3 separate regions of the Homo sapiens genome follow, and all the other regions are linked to region 1. The links come from fine-mapping of genetic effects on gene expression. A gene starts in region 1. Each other region holds a variant in brackets. All regions are shown on one strand. Distances are between the middles of the regions.

Region 1 (4,347 bases):
CTTTCAAGAATCCCTTCCCCGTCGTGAAGAGACAGCTGTCCGTAGAAGGCGGTGGAGGGTGACAGGCTGCCACAGCAGTGGTGCGTGGTCACCCGGGCAGCCTGGAAGTCTGGTGTCCCTGCACTTCCTCCAGTTTAGCCACAGGGACGTGCTTCTAGGAAGGGATTCTTAGAGGCCAAGTTAATTCCCGTGCAGATATTCAATTCAGGCTTTCTTAGATACTCATTTTTCCCATCCAGATATGCCTCAAGTTTTGTGGATTTACCACTCCTACTCAGGAACCCTTTTCCCTTTCCTCATTCATTCTGCAAAGCGCATGGTTAGCAATGCACTCTCTTCCCTGGACATATAGGGAATGGGGGTTTCCCCCATCCCCATCCTCAGCCCGTCCCCCTCCTCTAAAACTCAGATCAGGGTTTGTCTGCCCTGCTGCTAAGATGCAGCCCAACTTTGAACTCTGAGCTGTCTGCTTTAACATTTGGGCCTCACTTGAATGGATTCCCTTCCCTGAGGATTCCAAGCCCTCCCCAGCCATCAGTCTTCCCATCTTTCATAAAATGGAGCCAGCAGCCCCGCTTCAGGGACTCCCCCCCTCCCCCCTGTTCCCTCCACTCCAGGATTCTTCCCACTTCCATTTCCCTCCAGCCCCCACCCTGCACAAAGTTGCCTGTTCTGCCGAAGTGCCTATTTTTGGCTTGGGGCCCAGTTTTATAGCCCCAGCTATAGGTCTTGGCAGTCATAACTTTCGCTCTCCAGAGAGCCAAGCCGGGTCCAACAGCCTTCCCCACCCCAGAGAGGGGGTGCGGGGGCTCCCTCTGCAGCCTCAACCCGAAACCTGCCCCTCGCCTCACTTGGTCTGATGCCTGGGAACCCAAGCCTGCTTCTTGCCCTACTTCTTAGAGTCCACCAGCTGCAATGGAGTTGTTAGGTGTTGAAAATCCATGCCGGGTTTTTACTCTTTTAGAGAACATAAAATTCAATTTTTCCCCTCGCACCCCCTCCCCAAAAGCAAGACTTTGAGGCGTTTACAGGTACAAACCTCCCCCTAACGCTTCCCTCCGCCCCTGCTGCCCGGTCAGCTCCAAGCCCCTGTCCCGGTGGCCCAGGATCTTCTGCTGAGGGTCTCATCCCGTCCCGCGCTCCAGTCCTGGCTTTGCGTGCCTCCCTCGCCTTTTATTGTAGGTCTGGTCTCCCAGGGTAGCGGCCTCATCGCATTCCCTTCGCAGCGCCCCTGGATCCAGAAACCGCTTTTACCTGTCCGCTCCGGTGCAGCCAGCGCGCCAAATCCCTTCGTACCCGAGTCCAGTCCTCCTTTTGCCCGTCCCCCTTGCACGTCGCTGCCAGGAAGATGAGGGCAGCCCAAGTCGCCTCAGCCACTAAGCATCCCCCTTCCAGAACCCCCCACCATGCGAACCCAGGTCCCGGGAGTTCCGGGCCGGGTCTTGCTTGTTTCCACTGCGTTAGGCCTGACGCATTACTCCGTCTCCCGAGAAAGAATCCGGCCCGAAATTTGCGTGCCCCGGGTGCATTTGGCCATGTCGCATCTACCCCCCAACCCCCCGCTCCAACACCGTTCCTCCCATCTTTATCTAATCCAACTCGGGTTTTGCACAACCCTTCCAGATCTCCCCATTTGCGCCCTCCTTCCCCGGGCTCGGCGCCTTTCCTTATACTTCACTGGAAAATCCGCTCCGGGTCTTCCTTACGCCTGTCTCCCTTCCCCCACTCCCCGCTCCAACGCGGGGCTCCAGCACGTCGCTTTCCCTCTCCCTGCTTTTCCAGGGAGGAGGCGAGAGGAGGCGAAAGGAAGGAAAGTCCAGCCCGGGTTTTCGGGCCGGCTCCTGGGGCGCTCAAGCGGGTTGCGGCGGCCAGTCCCGGGCGGCGACTCCGGGCCGGGTTTTGCGCGCGCCCACCGCCCCCCTCCCGGAGCGGGTGCGCCGGGGAGCGGGGCGAGCAGGCGGCTTGTCATTGCTGGTGCCCGGCGCCGGCTCGGTCCGCGCGTCCTGCGGTGCCCACGGGCCCGGCCCGGCGCCCCCCCTCCGGCCGCACCGGGGGCGCGACGCCGCGGCACCCGCCTCCAGCCGCGCCGCCCCCCTCCGCCAGCTCCGCGCCGCCCGCCCCCAACCCGAGCTCCCCGCGGCCACTGCGGGGAGCCCGAGCCGTCGGCGCGGGAGCTGTCGGCGCTGCGGTGCCCCCGCCCCGCCGTCTGCCGAGGAGGCCCCGGCTGATGGGGCCGCGCGGGCCCCGGAGCGGCGCCGCCGGGCGGCGGGGGCCTGCAGGGGCGCCCCGGCTGCCCCGTTAACCCCTCGTCCACCGCCGGCGTCGGAGGGGGCTGGGAAGTCGCCTGGGCGCACACGTGCCGCCTCCGTCGGGGCCGCGGAGCTGCGGGGGAGATGCGGGCCGCTGCCGGCGCCGCCTCGGGGCGCTCCGCCTCGCCCCAGCCCCCGGCGCTCTGACGCCGCCCCCGCCCCACCGCCTCCCTCCCCGGGAGGGGCGCAGACCCGATCGCCCCCAGTCCCGAGCCTCCGCCGCCGCGAGGGGGCCGCCTTTGGATCCGTGTAATCCGCCTCTTTTTTTTCTTTTCTTTTCTTTTTTTTTTTTTTTCCTAATTTTTGGTCGGCGGCGGTGCTGGGCCAGGGGAAGGAAGGGACACGGAGGCCGCCCTCGTCCCGCCACCTCCTACCCGCTTCCCCCCAGCCCCGGCTCCGGGAGATGTGCCGGGCGGGGGGCCCGGGTTCGCCGAGCCGCAGGAGAGACACGCTGGGCCGACCCCAGAGAGGCGCTGGACAGGTGAGTGTCTGCGGGCCCAGGGCGAGGGGCGAAGCCGCACCTGGGCCAGGTGTGCGGGGCGCGTGGAAGAGGGGAGGCGGGAAGGATGGGAGGCCGGGGCCTGTCCTGGCCGCGAGGGGGGAGGGGACACGGGAGCCGCGCGGGGCACCGCACCTGAGCGGGAGGGGCGTCGGGGGCAGCCCGCACCTCACCCCCACTGGCGAGGGGCCTGGGAGGGGCGGCCCCCACGGAGCGCCCGGGGCGCGGGGGTGCGGACGGGCTACCGCAGGGTGCCTGGCGGGGGGAGGGGACCGCGAGTGTGCCCGCGCGTGGCTGCGTGTGCCCGCGCGCGCGCCAGCCTTTGTGGGGAAGCGGCGCGGCGGTGCCTGCGTGTCCCCGGTGCGTGTGCGCGCGGGTGCTTGGCGCCCTGTTTGTGTAGGTGTCTGGGTGTGAGCGGAGGGGGTGCGTGTGCGCGCCGCGCGCCGGCCCCGCGCCCCAGAGGAGCCGTGTCGGGGGCTGGCACCACAGGATGCTGGGCGAGGGGGTTGTTTTTCTCTGGGAGGCAGTGGCGCGGGGGATGGGGAGGGGTCCGTCTGGGTGTCCAGCCGGCCGCAGTCCGGGGGGCGCCGCTGTCAGGAGGAGGGGGTGCAGCCGGGCAGCACCTTCTCTCCGTGGTGCCGGGTTAAAGCACGGGAGGCCGGCAGGTTTGATCCACTCGGATTATTCGTGCTTTGAGGACAGCTCCCCACCCCCACCCCAGGTGCGCATTGGATTGAGCTGCGAGGGTTTGGTTGTCATCCTCCCATCTGACGGTCCTGGGACCCGAGTCCAGGCCTGAAGTGGTGGGGTGGGGGGATGCTGTGTTTGCTCCAGCCGTGTCCAGAAAATGCCCTCCCAGGTATCTCTCCAGTGCACCCCTGGCCCCCATCTGAAGACAGCCGCTGGCTACACACACCCCTGTCTCTACACTTCCAGTCCGGGTCCTCACACTGCCCCATCCCTGGCCAACACCTCACTGTACCTGCCTGGACCCTTTCTTCCTGTTCCAACCCCCATCCACCCCCAGCCATGCCAGCTGCGTGGGTGTTTCTGTATCCCAGTTCCAGGCAGGGCCCCCCCTTCCGCCTGGCTTCCACCGGACTCAGAGCTGGGGTCTGTCTTCCCACATCCCACTTCCCAACATGTGTGCCTGGGGGCAGGAGGGGGAGGGGTTCAAAATGGCTGCCAAGATGGCTGGCTCGCGCGCTCTCTCTCTCTCTGTCTGTCTCTCTCTCTCTCTCTCTCTCTCTCTCACTCTCTCTGTCTTTCTCTATCTCTCTCTGTCTTTCTCTCTTCCCCTCTCTGCTTGCCCGGCTCCCTTATCCTGGTAGGGAGTCACTGCTTAGAGGAGGTCGGATCCAGTGGGGCACACCTGAGGGTGAATGTCTATTCCGGGCCGTTGACCTCCATGCTGTTTGGGGACAGACCATTGGTTTCTGCTTCTCTCTCCAACACCCCAAGGGCTGGCATGAGTCTAACCTGACCCCAGACCCCACTCCTTCACCCTGGCTCACAGCCTGAAAGCTCCGTGCCCTCCAC
Region 2 (4,000 bases), 530 kb before region 1:
GGAGTGCAGTGACACCATCTGGGCTCACTGCAAACTCTGCCTCCAGGGTTCAAGTGATTCTCGTGCCTCAGCCTCCCGAGTAGCTAGGATTACAGGCACCCGCCACCACGCCTGGCTAATTTTTGTATTTTTAGTAGAGACAGGGTTTCACCATGTTGGCCAGGCTAGTCTTGAACTCCTGGCCTCAAGCCATCTGCCCGCCTTGGCCTCCCAAAGTGCTGGGATTACAGACGTGAGCCACTGCGCCCAGTCCATCCCTGTCTTTGACTCTCCTACAGCCTTCATACTTTATAAAGACCTTGATGATTACATTGGGTTCACCAAGACAATCCAGGGCAATTTTCCCATCTCAAGATCCTTTTCATAACCGTATCTACAAAGTCTCTTTCTCCATGTCAGGTAGCATTTACAGGTTCTGGGGATTAGGGATGTGAACCTCTTTGGGGGGTCATTATTCTGTCTCTCATACCCATATAGTTTGGGTTTACCTATTGTAGAATCATCAAAACCTGCCTCATATTGTAGATATTTGCATAAATATTTATCACCCTTTCACCCCACACAGCCACTAGAAATGATATATACACATTGAAGAAAGGAAACATGTACTTTTGTGTAGGGAATTAGAGTTAGGTCATCAGATAGCCAACAAAGGCTTCTGAAATTTAAGGTGTGTGATCAGATATTTCTACCAGCTACTGACAAAGGACCAAGAAAATCCATTGCATTACTTAATGTCATTTTATCTTCTACTGTTTCCTAAAACTTGTTATCTCTGGTGTTTGAAAATGTATGTGCCTTGGCCGGACACGCTGGCTCACACCTGTAATCCCAACACTTTGGGAGGCCAAGGCGGGCAGAGCACTTGAGGTCAGGAGTTCGAGACCAGCCTGGCCAACATGGCAAGACCCCACCTCTACTAAAAACACAAAAACTAGCCAGGCATGGTGGTGGATGCTTGTAATTCCAGCTACTTGGGAGGCTGAGGCACAAGAATCACTCGAACCCAGGAGGCAGAGGTTGCAGTAAAGCCAAGATCGAGCCACTGCACTCCAGCCTGGGTGACAGAGTGAGACTATGTCTCAAAAAAAAAAAAAAAAAGAAAAGAAAAGAAAAGAAAATGTGTGTCTTGCTCTTATTCTGCAGTCTCTGCCATGGCTTTCTGCAGTCTTGTTTCATAAAAACAAAATGTCTTGTGATCACTACTGAATAATCTCCTGAAGCACAATATTTATTAATCTCTTGAGCACATATTAATTATGCATTAAATACTAACTATATAAGCAAGTGAAGCTGACCATCTCGAACCATAGAAATTACACTGAGTTTCCTATGAACCTAGGAATAAATAACTCATATTGGAGATGGAAAAGATATGGAAAAAAGGAATTCAGGCTGGGCGCAGTGGCTCACGCTTGTAATCCCAGCACTTTGGGAGGCCGAGGCAGGCAGATCACTTTAGCTCAGGACTTCAAGACCAGCCTGGGTAACATGGCAAAATTCCGTTTCTACAAAAAGTATAAAAATTAGCCAGGCATGGTGGTGCATGCCTGTAGTCCCAGCTACCGGGAGGCTAAGATTGGAGTATTGCTTGAGCCCAGGAGGTCAAGTATCCAGTGAGCTATGATCCCATCACTGCACTCCAGCCTGGGCAACAAAGCAAGACCCCTGTCTCAGGGGAAAAAAAAGGAATTCAGTGCTTTTTCCTTTAAATCTTATGTGGTTAACAATAGATAACACTTCTAACATTTCATTAATTTCCCACCTGGCTTCTTTTATGACTCCACATTTAAAGCAACATTACACAAACCCTGGAGCTCCGAGGTCAAGACATACATTTGGAAACAGATAGATCTTTTTAAATGTTTTTTAATTGATCCATAATAGACGTACATAGTTTCTAGGTACATGTGATCATTTGCTACACTCATATAAGCAAATCAGGGTAACTAAGATATCTATCACCTTAAATACTTATCTTTTCTTTGTACTAATAACATTCAAATTATTCTCTTCTAGCTAGTTTGAAATGTATGGTAGATTAATGTTAACTATAATCACCCTACTTCAGATACAACTTTTTTTTTTTTTTTTGAGAGGGAGTTTTACTCTGTCGCCCAGACTGGAGT[A/G]CAGTGGCACCATCTTGGCTCACTGTGACCCCCACCTCCCAGATTCAAGCGATTCTCCTGCCTCAGCCTCCCGAGTAGCTGGGACTACAGGCGCCTGCCACCAAGCCCAGCTAATTGATTATTATTATTACTACTGTATTCTAGTAGAGACAGGGTTTCACCATGTTGGCCAGGCTGGTCTCAAACTCCTGACCTCAAGTGATCTGCCCGCCTCGGCCTCCCAAAGTGCTGGGATTACAGGTGTGAGTCACCACACCTGGCCCAGATAGATACTTTACTGCAACACATTTACTTCCTCTTAACTTTGGTAACTTGGGGTTTAGGAGGCATACAAAGATGGGGCTTCTGAGAAAGAACAGGATGGAGCAAAATGAAAGCTGATATGGCCTTTTGATGTTGCCCTGACAAATACATATGGTAAGAAAACCTTATGATTAAAGACTTCTTGGCCAGGCATGGTGGCTCACACCTAGAATTCCAGCATTTTTGGGAGGTTGAGATGGGAGGATCACTTGAGCCCAGAAGTTCAACAGCAGCTTGGGCTATACAGTGAGACCCCATCTCTACAAAAAATTAAAATTAAAAAATGAGACAGGAGTGGTGGCACATGCCTGTAGTTGCAGCTACTCGGGAGGCTGAGGCAGGAGGATCACTTGAACCTGGGAGTTGGAGGTTGCAGTGAGCAGAGATGGTGCCACTGCACTCCAGACTGGGTGACAGAGCAAGGCCCTGTCTCTAAAAAGAAAAAAAAAAAAAAGACTTCTTAAATTTCTTTTTTTTAATAAATTTTATTGTGTATACACACAATTGAGGTTTAACCCATGAAGTTATGGGATACATATAGATAATAAAATGGTTATCTATATGTGAAGCAAATTAATATATCTATCATCTCACATAGTTACTTATTTTTGTGGCACAAGCAGCTATAATCTACTTATTTAACTAATTTCTTATTTCTTTTTCAAAATGGAAATTATAGGTTTTCTTTCTATAGTCATATATATTTCTAAATATATATATATTTCTAAATATATAGATATTAAATATATATATTTCTAAATATATAGATATTAAATATCTATATATTTCTAAATATATAGATATTAAATATCTATATATTTCTAAATATCTATATATTTCTAAATATCTATACTTCTAAATATCTATATTTCTAAATATCTATATATTTCTAAATATCTATATTTCTAAATATCTATATATTTCTAAATATCTATATATTTCTAAATATCTATATATTTCTAAATATATATATTTAGAAATATCTATGTATTTCTAAATATCTATATATTTCTAAATATCTATATACTTCTAAATATATCTATGTTTCTAAATATATTTAGAAATATATATATATTTCAGGCCAGCTCAGTGGCTCACACCTGTAATCCCAGCACTTTGGGAGGCTGAGGCAGGCAGATCACCTGAGGTCAGGAGTTCAAGGCCAGCCTGGCCTACGTGGTGAAACCCTGTCTCTACTAAAAATACAAAATTAGCCGGGTGTGGTGGCACATGCCTCTAATCCTGGCTACTCTGGAGGCTGAGACAGGAGAATTGCTTGAACCTGGGAGGCGGGGGTTACAGTGAGTCGAGGCTGCGCCATTGCACTCCAGCCCAGGCAACAAGAGTGAAACTCTGTCTCAACAACAAAATACATACATATATATATATTTCAGGTTAACTAGAAAAATCTTCTGAATAAGATCTTCCCTCTTTGCCCGTGGAAAATCTGAACAATCTTTGAGCCATCTAGAGGGGAAAGAAAAGACTTTGTTCTGTGTGTTTCAAGAAATTCACCATGTCAGCAATATGAAGGATGTTATGGAAGGCGTGCTAGGCATTCAATTCCT
Region 3 (4,347 bases), 20 kb before region 1:
TTGTGAGCCACTGAGGACCCCCGCTCCCCATCCTCCATCCTCCTGCCCACCCGCTCTGTCTCCTGGGCCTGTAGGCTGCCGATCTGAGCCCCATCCCCCATCCTGCTATTTTAATTTTTACATTTTCTCATCACCCCCTGGAATTACCGTCTCTCCTTATTTCCTTCCTCCTTCACAGTCTTTTTCCTTGAAGGCAGGGCCATGTCTGTCCTGTTCGTCGTTGCATCCTTAGTGCATTGAACACATAGCAGTGGCTCCCATATCTGCAGACAACCACTAACCCTCTGCCACGGTCCCACCATCACGGCTGCCATCCTATCCTAACCTTACTAAGGACACCTTCCCCCTCTCCCCGGCGGCTGTGAGCGCGCTGGAAGACGGGGGCTGTTTAGTTTGTTTCCTTCATGGATGGATCTACTGTCCCTCCACCCCCAAAGAAAGCCTGATTCACAGCTTTCTGGGTGTTGGGATTGGGGGATGGGGACAGACAGGCATGACTGAGTCATTCAGCTGTTTAAAAGCTATCACTGACTTCTTCAAAATTGAAAAATGTTATCGTGGCTCCAAAGGTCCTTTCCAACCTAGACCCAAAACACCTGTTCAGTTTAAACCACGCCCCCTCCACCGCGCCAGCCCCGACAAACATGCTGGCACCCGCCTAGGCACCACCTAGTCAAACCCCCTGGCCCATGTGGTCCCCAACTCACCCATGATGCTTTGCATCGCCTTCACTAAATGCCCCGCCCCTCCCTCTGTGTCCGCCCCAGAGCTGAATCCAGCCCACAGATGTAATTGGCTTGGTCCATGCAGGCTTTAAAAACATTTTGTAATGACTTGCTAGCTTTTATTTATTTATTTATTTATTTATTTATTTATTTATTTATTTATTTATTTTTGAGATGGAGTCCCACTCTGTCACCCAGGCTGGAGTGCAGTGGCGCGATCTTGGCTCACTGCAAGCTCTGCCTTGCGGGTTCACGCCATTCTCCTGCCTCAGCCTCCCGAGTAGCTGGGACTACAGGCGCCCCCCACCACGCCCGGCTAATTTTTTGTATTTTTAGTAGAGACGGGGTTTCACCGTGTTAGCCAGGATGGTCTCGATCTTCTGACCTTGTGATCTGCCCACCTCGGCCTCCCAAAGTGCTGGGATTACAGGCGTGAGCCACCGCGCCCGGCCCATGACTTGCTAGCTTTTAAATACAGGCTGCTTTTTCATTGTTGTTGTTGTTGTTTTTGTTTTTGAGATGGCGTCTCGCTGTGTCGCCCAGGCTGTAGTGCAGTGGTGTGATCTCTGCTCACTGCAACCTCTGCCTCCTAGGTTCAAGCGATTCTCCTGCCTCAGCCTCCCAAGTAGCTGGGATTACAGGCAAAGGCCACCAGGCCCAGCTAGTTTTTTTCTATTTTTAGTAGAGGCAGGGTTTCACCATGTTGGTCAGGCGGCCTTGAGCTCTTGAACTCAAGTGATTCGCCCCCCTCAGCCTCCCAAAGTGCTGGGATTACAGGCCTGAGCCACCAGTGCCAGACCTCAGGTGATTTTTGCATAAAAATCTGGATGCCTGACTTCCTCTAAAGATGAAATCTTGTCTGGGCGTGGTGGCTCATGCCTGTAATCCCAGCACTTTGGGAGGCCTAGATGGGCAGATCACCTGAGGTCAGGAGTTCGAGACCAGCCTGGCCAACATGGCAAAACCTTGTCTCTACTAAAAATGCAAAAATTAGCCAGGTGTGGTGGCACGTGCTTGTAATCCCAGCTACTCGGGAAGCTGAGGCAGGAGAATTGCTTGAACCTGGGAGACGGAGGTTGCAGTGAACCGAGATTGTGCCACTGCACTCCAACCTGGGTGACACAGCAAGACTTGTCTCAAAAAAAAAAAAAAA[AC/C]ACAACTGAATTAAATGAGTTCATGCTATATAAGGAACGGGCTTAGCAAGTGCTGATAAATGTTACTCATTCTTATCATTATTTGCCATAGTCCCACCCCCCCTTACTGTCTCCCTGACACTGAAGCTGTTCCGTTGCTGGTGCAGTCAGTCTTTTTATCTTGGCTGCTTGGCGTATTTATATTACCTACTGGCTGTCCCTGTAGGTTTGTGGCATGCTCCAGCTCAGTTCTGGGTCATCACCTCTGCTATAAAGAGGTTCCCCAGTCTGGGCATGGTGGCTCAAGCCTGTAATCTCAGCACTTTGGGAGGCCAAGACAGGAGGATGGCTTGAAGCCAGGAGCTCAAGACTAGCCTGGGCAACACAGTGACACCCCATCTCTACAAAAAATAAATAAATAATTAGCCATGCATGATAGCATGTGCCTGTAGTCCCAGCTACTCGGGAGGCTGAGGCAGGAGGATCGCTTGAACCCAGGAGGTCGACTGCGCCACTGCATTCTAGCCTGGGTGACGAAGAGAGGTCCTGTCTAAAAAAAAAAAAAAGAAGAAAAGAAAAAAAAGCCTCTCTGGTCCTCCACCTCACTGTCCATCCGTTTCTCAACACTCCCCATTTTCGAGTTTCCCTCCCCCTCCACTGTACCACGGGCCCTTCCTGACGCTTCATCAAGTGCTTGTGGAATTGGATATCAGGGCCTGTGTTCATTTCCTGGGGCTGCTGAAATACATTACCATAAACTAGGTGGCTGGAAACAACAAGAATTTATTATTTCACCATTCCGGAGGCCAGAGGTTGCAATCAGGGTGGTGCAGGGCTGCAATCCCTCCGAAGGCACTAGGTGAGGATTCGTCCTTTTTTCTTCCAGCCTCTGATGGTTCCTTGCTTGTGTCTGTACTGCTGAAAGCCCTGCCTGTCTTCACTTGGCCTTCTTCTCTGTGTCTAACCCCCTTCTCTTCTAAGGTCATTTATCATTGGATTTTGGGCCACCCTAATCCAGGATGATCTCATTGCAAAATCCTTAACTTAATTACATCTGCAAAAACGCTTTGTCCAAATAAGGTCACTGCTATGGTTTGAATGTCTGTGTCCCTTCCAAATCCATATGTTGGAAGAGTTGGGGTTCTTGGGAAGTGATTAGGCCAGGAGGGCCCCATTCTCATGGGTGAGATTATTGCCCTTATAATTGAGTGTGACAGTTTGGAGATTTCTCAAACAATTTAAAATTCTTCTATTTTATTTGACCCAGCAATCCCATTACTGGGTATATACTCAAAGGAATATAAATTGTTCTACTATAAAAACACATGCACATGTATGTTCATTGCAGCACTATTCACAATAGCAAAGACTTGGAATCAGCCTAGGTGCCCGTCAATGGAGGATTGGATAAAGAAAATGTGGTACATATGCACCATGGAATACTATGCAGCCATTAAAAAAGAATGAGGCCGGGCATGGTGGCTCATGGCTGTAATCCCAGCATTTTCGGAGGCCAAGGTGGGTGGATCACTTGAGGCCAGGAGTTCGAGACCAGCCTGGTTAACATGGCAAAACCCCGTCTCTACAAAAAAATACAAAAATTAGCAGGGTATGGTGGCAGGTGCCTGTAGTCCCAGCTACTTGAGGGGCTGAGGCAGGAGAATTGCTTGAACCTGGGAGGCGGAGGTTGCAGTGAGCCGAGGTCACGACACTGCACTTCAGCCTGGGTGACAGAATGAGATTGTCTCAAAAAAAAAAAAAAAAAAAAAAAGAATGAGATTATATCCTTTGCAGCAATATGGATGGAGCTGGAGGCCATTCTCCTAAGTCAACTAATGCAGGAACAGAAAACCAAATACCACACGTTTTCACTTATAAGTGGTAGTTAAACACTGAGTACACATGGACACAAAGGTGAGAACAACAGGCCAGGCACAGCGGCTCACGCCTGTAATCCCAGCACTTTGGGAGGCTGAGGCAGGTGGATCACTTGAGGTCAGGAGTTCGAGACCAGCCTGGCCAACATGGTGAAACCCCATTTCCACTAAAAATACAAAAACTAGCCAGGCGTGCTGGCACACACCTATAATCTCAGCTACTAGGGAGGGTGAGGCAAGAGAATCTCTTGAACCCGGAAGGCAGAGGTTGCAGTCAGCCGAAATTATGCCAGTGCACTCTACCCTGGGCAACGGAGCAAGACTCCATCTCAAAAAAAAAAAAAAAAAAGATGGGAACAACAGACACTGGTGTCTATTTGAGGGTGGAAGGTAAAAGGAGGGTCAGGATTGAAAAACTACCTGTTGGGTGTTATGGTGATTACCTGGGTGACAAGATTATCTGTATACCAAACTCCTGCAAAACACAATTTACCCAAATAAGAAACTTGGACATGTGCCCCCTTGAACTTAAAACAAACATTGGATAAATAAATAAATAAATAAATAGGCCAGGCACAGTGGCACACGCCTGTAATCCCAGCAATTTGGGAG

Direction of the effects. Positions count from the first base shown, and alleles are read on the strand shown. Sizes are in standard deviations (SD) of each study's normalised expression. Not every link is listed here.
For the expression in B cells of the gene that starts at base 2,606 in region 1, allele G in region 2 goes with a lower level than allele A (moderate effect, 0.59 SD a copy in Fairfax 2012).

The links. PIP is the estimated chance that this variant, and not a neighbour inherited with it, causes the effect.
Region 2: its variant is the best candidate, but not a certain one, in a credible set for the expression of ADGRL1 in B cells (Fairfax 2012, PIP 0.57).
Region 3: its variant is the best candidate, but not a certain one, in a credible set for the expression of ADGRL1 in whole blood (INTERVAL, PIP 0.70).

Annotation. Positions count from the first base shown.
Region 1 is chr19:14,204,428-14,208,774 of GRCh38, reverse strand. It overlaps ADGRL1 (adhesion G protein-coupled receptor L1), which reads left to right and starts at 2,606. Exons shown (of 23, transcript NM_014921.5): 1 at 2,606-2,790. RefSeq lists silencers at 1,813-1,912, 1,933-1,992.
Region 2 is chr19:14,736,071-14,740,070 of GRCh38, reverse strand. ADGRE2 (adhesion G protein-coupled receptor E2) reads left to right here. Exons shown (of 21, transcript NM_013447.4): 21 at 3,827-4,000. The coding sequence ends at 3,835. Among named protein-coding and RNA genes, the nearest start is that of ADGRE2, 40 kb to the left of the region's middle. The variant A/G (reference allele first, on the strand shown) is at 2,130.
Region 3 is chr19:14,224,305-14,228,651 of GRCh38, reverse strand. No RefSeq gene overlaps it. Among named protein-coding and RNA genes, the nearest start is that of ADGRL1, 20 kb to the right of the region's middle. The variant AC/C (reference allele first, on the strand shown) is at 1,879.